2 separate regions of the Homo sapiens genome follow, and region 2 is linked to region 1. The links come from fine-mapping of genetic effects on gene expression. Tissue or cell type: subcutaneous fat. Region 1 holds a variant in brackets; the other region holds the start of a gene. All regions are shown on one strand. Distances are between the middles of the regions.

What was found. PIP is the estimated chance that this variant, and not a neighbour inherited with it, causes the effect.
Region 2: it holds the start of CD27-AS1, and the variant in region 1 is fine-mapped to the expression of CD27-AS1 in subcutaneous fat (FUSION, PIP 0.95).

The regions. Positions count from the first base shown.
Region 1 is chr12:6,425,765-6,433,762 of GRCh38, reverse strand. No RefSeq gene overlaps it. Among named protein-coding and RNA genes, the nearest start is that of CD27, 15 kb to the left of the region's middle. RefSeq lists enhancers at 6,546-6,785, 6,826-6,935. The variant G/A (reference allele first, on the strand shown) is at 3,961.
Region 2 is chr12:6,449,114-6,454,113 of GRCh38, reverse strand. CD27-AS1 (CD27 antisense RNA 1) reads left to right here and starts at 2,597. Exons shown (of 6, transcript NR_015382.2): 1 at 2,597-3,773. CD27 (CD27 molecule) reads right to left here. Exons shown (of 6, transcript NM_001242.5): 3 at 3,762-3,941; 4 at 3,484-3,573; 5 at 3,100-3,219; 6 at 2,401-2,846. The coding sequence ends at 2,722. TAPBPL (TAP binding protein like) reads right to left here and starts at 2,072. Exons shown (of 7, transcript NM_018009.5): 1 at 1,802-2,072; 2 at 817-1,047; 3 at 398-667. The coding sequence starts at 1,865. RefSeq lists enhancers at 1,773-2,372, 2,803-2,962, 3,053-3,262.

The sequences.
Region 1 (7,998 bases):
TCGCGCCACTGCAAAAGAAAGGAAGAAAAGAAAGGAGAAGGGAGGAAGGGAGGAAGGAAGGAAGGAAGGAAGGAAAAAGAAAGAGAAAGAAAGAAAGAAAGGAAGAAAGAAAGAAAGAGAAAGAAAGAAAGGAGGAAAAGAAGGGAGGGAAGGAGGGAGGAAGGAAGGAGAGAACGGTAGTTGGATAATAAATTGTTGTATATTCACCCAATGGAATGCTTTAGAGGAATGAATATGAACCACCTGCATGTAGCCATGTAGATTAATTTGCATGAATGTCAAAAATATAATATTGTACATCGTGAATGTACTTCATGCCCCCTGAATTATACATTTAAAAATAGTTTAAATGGTAAATTTTATGTATATTTTACCACAATATAAATAAATAAATAGATAGAAAAACATGTTAAGTGATAGTGCACAAACACACAGAAGCAAGGCATAGAAAAGTACATACGATTCCATTTATAAAGTTCAAAAACAGGCAAAATGAAGCAGTTTGCTGTTCAGGGTGCACACAGATGGTAGAACTAGAAAGGAAAGTGAGGAAGTGATAGACACAAGCCAGAGCTGCTTCCCCCGGTGAGGAGGGAAGGTGTGATCAGGGCGCTTCGAAGGTTCTACTAATCTTCTGATCTGAACGTGGGTTTTCAATGTGTTATTTTTATGTACTATTTTACATATCTTAGTTCACAATAAAAAGTACAAATTATATTTTAAAAATTGGAGGTGAAAATGAAAAAAAATGGAAAATTATAGAGAAGACTCAGGTTCCCTTTGATCAATCTCCTCCCCCAATCCCTGGTCCTCTCCCTACCTCCTTAGTGTAGGCACTGTTTTCAGATTATTGAGTATTCTTCCAGAACTTTCCTAGACAAAAAAGTTATGTGTGTTGTTGTGGGTGTTTTTTGTTTTTTGTTTTTGTTTTTGTTTTTTGACAGAGTCTCTGTTGCCAAGGCTGGAGTGCAGTGGCACATTCTCAGCTCACTGCAGTCTCCACCTCCTGGGTTCAAGTGATTCTCCTGCCTCAGCCACCCAAGCAGCTGGGACCACAGGTGTGCACACCCGGCTAATTTTTGTATTTTTAGTAGAGATGGGGTTTCACCATGTTGGCCAGGCTGGTCTTGAACTCCTGACCTCAATTGATCCAGCTGTCTCAGCCTCCCACAGTGCTGAGATTACAGGCATGAGCCACTGTGGTAGGCATATGTTTATGTTTTTAAAAATTATTTTCTTTCCTTCTTATTTTTTGAGGTGGAGTCTCGCTCTTGTTGTCCAGGCTGGAGTGCAATGGCATGATCTCGGCTCACTGCAACCTTCACCTCCTGGGTTCAAGCAATTCTCCCATCTCAGCCTCCCGAGTAGCTGAGATTATAGGCGCCCCCCACCACATCTGGCTAATTTTTATATTTTAGTAGACATAGGGTTTCACCATGTTGGTCAGGCTGGTCTTGAACTCCTGACCTCAGGTGATCCGCCCATCTCGGCCTCCTGAAGTGCTGGGATTATAGGCGTAAGCCACTATGCCCGGCCTGTTTGTTTGTTTGTTTGTTTTTGTTTTTGTTTTGAGACAGAGTCTCGCTCTGTCACCAGGTTGGAGTGCAATAGCATGATCTTGCCTCACCGCAACCTCCGCCTCCCAGGTTCAAGCGATTCTCCTGCATCAACCTCCCGAGTAGCTGGAATTACAGGTGCATGCCACCATGCCCAGCTAATTTTTGTATTTTTAGTAGAGATGGGGTTTTGCTATGTTGGCCAGGATGGTCTCGATCTCCTGACCTCGTGATCCACCTGCCTCAGCCTCCCAAAGTGCTGGGATTACAGGCGTGAGCCACCACGCCCGGCCAGCCTGTTTTAAAAAATTATTTTATTTTCTACTTAAAATGTTATTAAGCAATAATCAAATATTTCTTACTCTGATTTCTTGGCCCCACTCCTCCTGAGGATTCTCTGCTTGAATTTTTCAGAGCAAGGGCGACCCCTGTCTTAGGAGAGGTAGGAGAGTGCCTCATGGACAGCATCTGGTTGTTCCTTCTCCCTGGCAAGGGGCCTGCCTCTCTTTTTCATACCTGAGATGACCGACAGCAGTAACATCTGACTTTGTCTTTTCCTTTCTTATTTGGGGCATCGCAGGCTACCTATATTTGCTGAAGGAAATCTTACACAAAGCTGCGATAATTCTAGCACAGAGCAAGAAATAGAGCCTAAGGAACAAACCACCCATTTTCTCTCCACTCGGTAAAAAATTATCTCTGGGAAATGAAATAGCCCAAGTCTGGCAGTTCCATGTTCTTCTTCTTTTTGTGTTTTAGAGACAGCCTTGCTTACTCACCCAGGCTGGAGTGCAGTGGCACAATCATGGCTCACTGTAGCCTCGAATTCCTGGGCTCAAGAGATCTTTCTACCTCAGCCTCCAGAGTATCTAGGACCAGAGGTGCACACTACCACGCCTGACTGATTTTTAATTTTATGTAGAGACTGGGTCTCTTTATGTTTCTCAGGCTGGTCTCAAATTCCTGGCCTCAAGAAATCCTTCCACCCCAGCCTCTCAAAGTGCTGAGATTACAGGCATGAACCACTGCCCCTGGTCCATGTTCTTCTTATATTGCTTTTCTAAAGTACTTCTTTTTGCAGATAGAGAAAGGCTTGTTAACTGGCCTCATGACTCAGCCTGCCAGGCACAATTGTCCATCGGCCCCAGCACAGTTGTATTTTTGTGTTTGTTTTGTTCTTTCCATAAATGATATACAGTATGTATCCTACGATTTGCTTTTCGTGCTTTTAATCCAGTTATATGTCTTGGAGATCATTTCATTTTATACTTCTAGAACTACTCGTTTCGTTAAATAGAGAATGGATGTGCAGAGGCTTTTTAGCCATTCTCCTGGTTCCCGAATACTTAGGTTGTTCCCAACAATGCACTATCGTAAGTGGTGTTGCATAAACATCTCATACTTCGCTGTGCATGTGGGAGTGTCTCTCTAGAATAAGTGCGGGGCATCGGAATCGCTGAGTCACAGGGTGTGCACATTTTTCACTTTAACAGATGCTGGCGAGTTGCCCTCCAGAGTGGCCCTACCAATTCACACTCCCACCAGCAGTGGAATGATAGCACATATTTCCTCACGTCCTGCCAGGCTTTCGTATTAGCAAACTGTTTTTGAGCATCTCATTGGAGGAAAGTGCTGTCTCATTGTTTCAGTGTGCACTCTTCCCATTCCCGGGGAGGCTGAGCGTCTTTCCATGATCGCGCTGTTTGTGTTTCCTCTTTTGTGACCAAGGCCTTTTTACCCTTATGTCACCACCAGTGTTCTGAAGTCCACCCTTGGCTCTCCCCCACAGCAATCTTGTCCTCCAGACCCAACCTGCATTGCCTCTGCCAATCACAGGGGTGCCAAACATGGTATACACTTGCCATCTGCCCTGGGGGCTGAAAAAAGCCTCGTGGTGACAGGGGAGATCTCTGCTGTCCCTCCCTTACTAATGTCAGGGGACTTCAGACCTCCACAGAGGGTGTGTCCTTTACCTCACTTGTCACACGGCAGCTGGGACTTGCGTGACCCCTAAACTCCTTCTGCTTCAGCATTTGATGACCCCCCAAACTGCACTGACCTCCAGCCCAAACTGAAGGGATCCCTGGTGCCTGTTGACTTTTACTGAGATGAAATGAATCATTTTAATAATTTAAAAATGTACAATTCAGTGGCTAGACTTTTACTGAGATAAAATGAATCATTTTCATCATTTAAAAATGTGCAATTCAGTGCTTTTACTATATTCACAAAGATGTGCAAATATCACAGATACATTTCTATTTTTGAAAAAGTTATAACTACCCTAGTTGGTGTGAAGTGGTATCTTATTGTGGTTTTGATTTGTATTTCACTAAGACTAATGATGTTGAGAATCTTCTTATGTGCTCATCGCCATTTGTATATTTTCTTTGGAGAAATGTCT[G/A]TTCAAGTCCTTTGCCCGTGTTTAAATTAAATTATTTGTGTCTTTTGTTGCTGAGTTGCAAGAGTTTTTTTTTTTTTCTTTTTGATATTATGAATTCTAGACCTTACTAGATAAGTGATTTGAAAATATTTTCTCTGGCCCGGGGCGGGGGCTCACACCTGTAATTCCAGCACTTTGGGAGGCCGAGGCGGGCAGATCACGAGGTCAGGAGATCGAGACCATCCTGGCTAACACAGTGAAACCCCGTCTCTACTAAAAATTAAAAAAAAAAAAAAAAAAAATTTAGCCAGGCGTTGTGGCGGGCGCCTGTAGTCCCAGCTACTCGGGAGGCTGAGGCAGGAGCATGGTGTGGAACCCGGGAGGCAGAGTTTGCAGTGAGCCGAGATCGCACAACTGAACTCCAGCCTGGGCGATAGAGCGAGACTCCGTCTCAGAAAAAAAAAAAAAAAAATTTATCCCATACTGTGGGTTGTCTTTTTACCTTCTTAATAGTGCCCTTTGATGCATAAAAATTTCACATTTTGGGCCGGGCATGGTGGCTCATGCCTGTAATCCCAGCACTTTGGGAGGCCAAGGCGGGCGGATCACGAAGTCAGGAGATGGAGACCAGCCTGGCCAATATGCTGAAACCCCGTCTCTTAAAAATACAAAAAATTAGCCGGGCGTGGTGGCGGGCGCCTGTAGTCCCAGCTACTCGGGAGGCTGAGGCAGGAGAATGGCGTGAACCCAGGAGGCGGAGCTTGCAGTGAGCAGAGATCACGCCACTGCACTCCAGCCTGGGAGACAGAGCGAGACTCCGTCTCAAAAAAAAAAAAAAAAGTTTCACATTTTGATGAAGTCCAGTTTATCTACTGTTTCTTTTGTTGCCTGTGCTTTTGGCATCATATTTGAGAAACTGTTGCCGAATCCAAACTCATACAGATTTTCACTTATATTTCCCTCTAAGAGTTTTATAGTTTTAACTCTTAAATTTAGTTCTTTGATTTATTTTGAGTTAAATTTTTTATCTGGTTTTAGGTAGGGGTCCAACTTCATTCTTTTACTTGTGGATATGCAGTTGTCCTAGCACTGCTTCTTGAAAAGACTATTCTTTTCACACAGAATGGTCTTGGCACCCTTGCTGAAATTAATTGACAATAGATGTATGGGTTGATTTCTGGACTCTAAATTGTATTCCATTGATCTGTATGTCTGTCTTTAGGTCAATACCATGGTTTTGATTACTGTAGCTTTATAGTAAGTTTCGAAATTGGGACTTCAACTTCGTTCTTCTTTTTCAAAATTATTTTGGCTACTCTGTGTCCCTTGCATTTGCATGTGAATTTTAAGATCAGCTTGTCCATTTATGCAAAAAAGAAGGCAGTTAGAATTTCGATGGGGATTGCATAGAGTCTGTAGATGAAATTGGGAAATATTGTTACCTTCAGTCCATGAACACAGATGTCTTTCCATTTATTTAGGATTTCTTTAATGTCTTTCAACAATGTTTTCTAGTTTTCAGTGTATGAGTCTTGCACTTTCTTTGTTAAATGTATACCAAGTTTTTTTTTTTTTTTCTCGAGACAGAGTCTCACTCTGTTGTCCAGGCTGGAGTGCAGCGGCCCAATCTCAGCTCACTGCAGCCTCTGCTTCCCAGGTTCAAGCGATTCTGCAGCCTCAGCCTCCCGAGTAGCTGGGATTATAGGTGCCTGCCACCACGCCTGGCTAATTTTTTGTATTTTTAGTAGAGACAGGGTTTTATCATGTCGGCCAGTCTGGTCTCGAACTCTTGACCTCAGGTGATCCGCCTGCCTTGGCCTCCCAAAATGTGGGAATTACAGATGTGAGCCACCGCACCTGGCCAATGTATGCCTAAGTATTTATTCTTTTTGATGCTATTGTAAATTGAGTTGTTTTTCCTAATTTCATTTTTTTTTTTTTTTGAGATGGAGTTTCGCTCTTGTTGCCCAGGCTGGAGTGCAATGGCGCAGTCTCGGCTCATTGCAATCTCCACCTCCTGGGTTCAAGTGATTCTCCTGCCTCAGCCTCCTGAATAGCTGGGATTACAGGCATGCGCCACACATGCCCAGCTAATTTTGTGTTTTTAGTAGAGACTGGGTTTTACCATCATGGTTAGGCTGGTCTCAAACTCCTGACCTCAGGTGATCCCGCCTGCCTCGGCCTCCCAAAGTGCTAGGATTACAAGCATGAGCCACTGTGCCCGGCCCCTAATTTCAATTTCATTTTCTTTCTTTCTTTTTTTCTTCTTCTTTTTTTTTTTTTAGACAGTGTCTCGCTCTGTCACCCAGACTGAGTGGGGAGTGCAGTGGTGCAACCTCGGCTCACTGCAGCCTGCACTTCCCGGGTTCAAGTGATCCTCCCACTTCAGCCTCCCGAGTAGCTGGGACTACAGGTGCATGCCATCATGCCTGTCTACTTTTTGTATTTTTTTGAAGACATGTGGTTTTGCCATGTTGCCCAGGCTGGTCTGGAACTCCTGGGCTCAAGTGATCCACCCGCCTTGGACTCTCAAAATGATTACAGGTGTGAGCCACTGCGCCCAGCCCCGAATTTCATTTTCAAGTTGCTCTTTGCCCATGTAGCAGTTGACATTTGAAGAAGGCAGTTGTTTTCTCCAGAGTTGGAAGGTGGCACCTTGAGGTGTAGGCGTGTTGCTATGACACCCTGTGGGCCGTTGCTGGGGCTCTCTTGTGACTTTTCTGAAGTCACGGATGGAGAGTTTGACTCTGTGACACAAAGGGAAACATGTCTGACTAATCTTTCCCACACTCCCTTTGCCTCTGATGGCTCCCTCGGCTAGGAGAGGAGAGGAAGAGAGTGGGTTGGTGGGGCCTCACCCTTTATTACAGGTGCTTCCTCTGACCCTTCTCTTCTGCAGGATTTTTGGGGCAGCTACTGAAGGGACAGGCACTCCCAAAGGGCAAGGGCTGTGGCAGCCTTCTCTTTTACCCATAAGTTGGCCAGAATTGATGCTGTCTACTTGTTTTTTTTGTTTGTTTGTTTTGTTTTGTTTTTTGGGAGATGGAGCCTCCCTCTGTCACCCAGGCTGGAGTTCTCTCACCCAGGCTGGAGTGCAGTGGCGCGATCTTGGCTCACTGCAACTTCTGCCTCAGCCTTGGGTTCGGGTTCAAACAATTCTCATGCCTCAGCCTCCCAAGTAGCTGGGACCCCAGGCACACACCATCATCCCTGCTTAATTGTTTTGTATTTTTAGTAGAGATGGGGTTTCGCCGTGTTGGCCAGGCTGGTCTTGAACTCCTGGTCTCAAGTTATCTGCCCACCTCGGTCTTTCATTGTGCTAGGATTACAGGTGTGAGCCACCGCACCCGGCCTGATGCTCCCTACTTTGATGTGCATAGAGGAATGTTGCAGGCCACAGGCATAGGCAGGGTCCTGGTGGCTGGTGATGTCAGAGAAGCCTGGGGGGGAAGTCCAAGGATCAATCAGCTGGTGAAAATCTGAAGGAGCGGAGGATGATTCGAGTAAATCTGTGCTGCTTGGCCTGCGTCCAAGGCCGTCTCTCTGCTCAGTCACTTGCTGGCTGCCCAGTTGCTCAGGCTCCGTGGGTTTGTTTCCACTGTCACATGGGGATGCAGATGCTGGCCTCGGAGGGCGGGTGTGAGCAGCCATGTTTGGTAACTCGGGTGAATGCCCTGCTAGGACTTGATGCAGAAGAGGTGCCAGTCAGTGTTCACTGGAGTATGACTTGATCACCAGCAACTTCCTTCTTGACTGGGATAGGGCAACATGAGAGCTGAGAGTTCCTTAAGTGGGGCCGTGCTCAGAATGGAAGGGAAAGAGTGAAGAAATCTACTAGGAAGAGGTGTATGGGAGGCGTATGCGACAAATCTCACCTTTATGAGAGCTCAGCTAGTCAGTGGGAGCTTTAGGTTGAACGGTGTGGGTGCTTCTAGGGCTGAGGAGACCCCATCATATTTTCACGCCAAAGGAATGGGGTGGGCCGGATGGGGAGAGCTGCAAGAAGCAGGATGTTGCAAGTTTGTGTGGTTTGTTTGTTTCTTTTGTTTTGTGAGACAG
Region 2 (5,000 bases), 22 kb before region 1:
GATTTGTTCCCTTTCTTCTTCTGTGCCCCATATCTTACCACTTTAGAAAAGCAAAACTTTCTGTGACTTGCTTTTCTTTTCTTTTCTTTTTTTTTTTTGAGATGGAGTTTCGCTCTTGTTGCCCAGGCTGAAGTGCCATGGTGTGATCTCGGCTCACCGCAACCTCTGCCTTCCGGGTTCAAGCGATTCTCCTGCCTCAGCCTCCCTCGTAGCTGGGATTACAGGCACCCGCCACCATGCCCGGCTAATTTTGGTATTAGTAGAGACGGGGTTTCACCGTGTTGACCAGGCTGATCTCAAACTCCTGACCTCAGGTGATCCACCGACCTCGGTATCCCAAAATTCTGGAATTACAGGCGTGAGCCACCACACCTGGCCTTGCTTTTCATTTTCTTACCTGCAGTTCGCACAGTCCCCTGGGGGCTCAGTGGCAAGTTCAGCGTCGGGTGCCAGAGCGCCTCATTCTTGGTGACCCTGGGAGTCTTCATCACCAAGGAGATGCTAGGTCCCCCTCCAGAGACCTGCATGTTGGCCATGAACCAAGCTGCTGTCTTAACAGTGGTCTCTGTCATCTGGAGAAAGTAGCGGGAGATCTCACAGGTCACCTCCTTCCCACTGCAGTCAGCATGGAGCAAGGCCTCGGCCTGGGGAATCTGGACCAGGTCCACTGGGGAGAAGCAGGGCACACACAGAGGGCAAATTAGCGTGAGAACACCAGGGCCAACGGGAGGCAGTATGTGTGGCTGTAATCGGGACCTGGGCTGTCCTGGTGGAGGGAGCCCGGGAGGACCAAGGACACAGGTGGAAGGCTTTTACCTGAGGCCTCAAAGATAATAGGTGGGTCATCTTGGGCCAGTGTGCCCCCTTGGAAATCGGTGAAGTCCTCCAGGGAGCCATCGTCCAGCACTGGCACCTGCTTCAGCACAAGGGAGGCCCTTGCCCTGTCCTCACTGCTGGCGAGAGCTCCACGGTGCGCACCGTCCTTCGCCAGGAAGCAGTCTAGGACCACGTCCACTGCCCGCCACTGCCCCTCTGCTGGGTGGGGCTCTGCAGACAAAGGCTGGGGTGAGCACCGCCTTCCCCAGAAAGCTACTCCACACTTGCTTCCTGCCCCCGCCCTCAAGCTGTGGAGTCATCAAAGGGTAAAAGTTGCCATCCAAGATCCTAGCTGTTTCTGTGTCCCTCTATTCTCCCGTCATCCCCAAACCAGCTTTCTGGAGAGCACCTGCTAGTCCAGGCAAATACTTCTTGGTGAGAGTTAAAGTCCTGGATTTGCCTTGCTCAGAGGAGTTTATGCTTGCATTTCCAACTGTTGAATAAAAGACTATCTTTTCAGTCAAAGGAATTCTCAGAAAACAAGCAAGTGCCACCGCAGAGAGAGGAGACTGGACAGTTACTGTTGCTGGGGCACTGACAGCCTGCACTGCTTTCTCCCATTTCGGGTAGCCTTCCCCTCCCCCGCCTTCAAGGTCACCTTCCAAGTGATTTCCTCACCTGGGGAGTCCTTTCCTCTTCTGAAGTGTCAGCTCCCAGGCCAGTGCCCTCTCTGTAGGACAGTGGCTCCTGACCACAGCCACAGAGGCAGCCCCTCTTTAGCATTTTCCCTGTGGAGTCCCCACCCTCCCTCCACACACACTATTGGTTCCTTCCTTTGCCAGCCGCTGAGCCTTTCCCCTGTTGGGCTTAGAAGGCGATGGGGTCATCCCCGGCCCCTTTGCTCTTCTGGAATCTCGGGGAGGGTGGCACCCTGGGGCTTCAGTAGCTCTTCTCCCAGCCAGCTCTCCCCGACTCCCAGACTCACTGGTTTCTGCTGCTCCAGATAGAGCCAGGCAGAGCAGCAGGCACCAGCCCTCCTGTGTGCCCATGGAGGCTGCTCTCGAGTTCCCTCCTTGCCCACCGCCCTTCTCCACAGTCCTACGCTGCTTGCGAGGCCCGGCGGAAGAAGGGGGCTCTCCAAGCACACCTGGCAGCCTGCAGCCTTTAGGTTTCTTCCCTGTTCCCTCTGCTGCCGACTTTTCTTTCACTTTCACTTAGAGCAAGATGGCAGCCCGCGTCCCTGTGTGAAGCCGTCTGCAGCAGCTGCCAGAGCCCTGCTTGCTGTTTCCTTTCTCACCACCCACCTCACCCGGAAATCCCCTGGTGATTTCAAGACCTGACCTCTGCACCCTTTTGCTCCCCACCTGTCCCAAAAAAGTGGAGCTATAACTGTGGGAAAAGGGGATCTGAAGTCAGACACAGGATCCACAGTAGCCTGGGGACCTTTCTCACCCCCGCCCTTAAGCAGGCCCCAACATAACCGGCTGAGAAACCTCCTCTGCCAGATCCTGACCTGAGCCAGGAGGCGGCCAGGAAACTGGATTTTGGGACTGGGATTTCAGAGAGGAAGCTGGAGAGCTGCAGGGTGGTCATCTGTCACTTTATTTTGCCCGTCTTGTAGCATGTGGGTCTTTCGCAGCAGGAAGTGTGTTTTACAACCAGAGCCCCCGCCCTCCTGCAGCGCAGGCGCAGCTGGCTGGGCTCCTGCTTCCCACTCTCCACCTCATCCATATTTGTCCTCGTCCCTGCCAGTCTCGAAAAGGCACTCTGTCACGTGTACACAGGAAAGGGCCCTGACAAGAGGATGGGACTGCAGTTGTGGCTGCCAGGTCTCACTCTCCCTTGGATGGTCGGCGGGGTGGGGGTGGAGGCCAGGGCTGTAGTGCAGCTCCCGCAGGTGCTGGCTCAGGGGGAGCAGGCAGGCTCCGGTTTTCGGTAATCCTCCTGGATGGGGATGGTGCTGCCCTCCTCCTCCCTGGGGCAGCTGTAATGACAAGGCTCTGCAGGCTCCACAGGACTTTCTCCTTTGTCTGCAGAAGGAGATCCGATGAGTCTTGGCCAGCAGTGGGGGCAGGGGGAGACGGGAGAAGGAGATGGGTAGAGGCGGGTGCGCTTGGGGGAGGGGTGTCAGGAGCACGCCAGCTAAGGGGAGAGAAGGGGTAGGACCAAGGCTGGTGAAGTGGAGCTGGTGGGTTTCAGTGAGATTCCAGGCGTGGGCAGTGGGGTTGAGCCAGTGGGGTGTGGTGCAGGGGCAGGACCGGAGGCCTGTGTTCTGTCTCTTACTTGATCTATATTTCCTTCGTTGATGGAGGAACAGGGCCCCGGCCAGGGTGAAAACAAGGAACATTCCAGAGAAGATCACAAGGATGCGAATAAAATCGGAGCTGCACAGGGATCTTTGGGCTGTAATAGGAGGGGACACACAGGGGTTAGGGGAGGGTCTAGCCCTTGGCTCCCTCAGCCCAGCCCTCCTGTCACCTTGCCTCTCCCCTTTCCCCCACCTTATTCTATCCCACCCGCCACCGTTGGCCAACTCCTCTCCTAAACAGTGGACTCTGCTTTTTCCCCTCCTCTTATCCCTAATCCTAGGAGCTTTCTGTCTGGCTTCCCTCCTGGCCCCTCGTGTATGCATTCTCTCTAGCGGTGGGGATTAAGGAGAAAACTCACGTGGCCAGTGGGTAGAGAGAGTCCGGGCAGGCAGCTGCCTGAAGTCAGCCAGAGTCTGCATGTGCCCAGCTGTCCTGGCCTCCAGCATCTCTGGAAAAACAGAGACAGAATGAGTAGCAGCAGGGGACCCCATAGGGCACATCTGAAGGCCTGAGAGGTGCTGGATGGGATGGGAAGGCAGAAACAGGCTGACCTTATCTAGGGGTAGGAGTGGGGAGTACTGGTTGGGGTATCACCGCTACCCCACGTGATGGCACAGAGAGTTGCCTGGAACTTACCACTGACATAAGGTAAGTGGGTGGGCTGAGGGTGTGGGCTCAGGGCCTGAGACGACCGAGCGGTCAGCGAAGGGTTTGGAAGAGGATCACACTCGGTGCACTCCTTGTCCCTGCACTGCCAGCCATTGCGACAGGCACACTCAGCATTGGCAGTGATGGTGCAGTTGCGAACGAGAAGACCTGGGGGAAGAGAGGCCCAGGGAGCATAGGACACTCAGACCTGTGGAGACCTTCAAGGTCCACTTGCTTCATCCCCCAACCCCCATCCCAGGCCCACCTCTAGGGACGTGCTTCCCTTTCCATTCCCACCCCTGCAAAGGCCTGCCCTTTGCTCACGGTCCCCCAATGCCTTTGCCATTATTATTGTTATTAAAGAAGAAAGTTGGACCTTTCAGAAGGAAGATTCATGGGTTCAGACATAGAAACCATGAAAAGTAGAAAGAGCTTATATGACTTTCTCTTGTACTCCCTGATACATTTTTTATTTTTTATTTATTTTTTTGAGATGGAGTCTCGCTCTTGTTGCCGAGGCTGGAGTGCAATGGCGTGACCTTGGCTCGTTGCAACCTCTGCCTCCCGGGTTCAAGCAATTCTCCTGCCTCAGCCTCCCAAGTAGCTGGGATTACAGGTGTGTGCCACCACACCCGGCTAATTTTTTGTATTTTTAGTAGAGACGGGGTTTTACTGTATTGGCCAGGCTGGTATTAAACTCCTGACCTCAGGTGATGCACCAGCCTCAGCCTCCCAAAGTGTTGGGATTACAGGCGTGAGCCACTGTGCTCGGCCCCAATACTTTAATAACTTTTAATTAAAGTATAATATACGTACAGAGAGGCACGCATGATTGTAAAGCTTAAGAATTTGTACAAATTTGGCTCACAGGCATAACCAGCAGCAGATCAACAAATATAAAATAGCCGGGTGAGGCAGGGAATTGCTTGAACCCGGGAGGTGGAAGTTGCAGTGAGCCGAGATCACGCCACTGCACTCCAGCCTGGGCAACAGAGTGAAACTCCGTCTCAAAAAAAAAAAAAAAAGAAAAGAAAGAAAGAAAATAGCCAGGTGCAGTGGCTTACGCCTGTAATCCCAGCACTTTGGGAGGTTGAGGTGGGTGGATTGCTTGAGCTCAGGAGTTTGAGACCAGCCTGGCCAACATGGTGAAACCCCGTCTCTACAAAAAATACAAAAATTAGCTGGGTGTGGTGGTGCACACCTGTAGGCCCAAGCTACTGGGGAGGC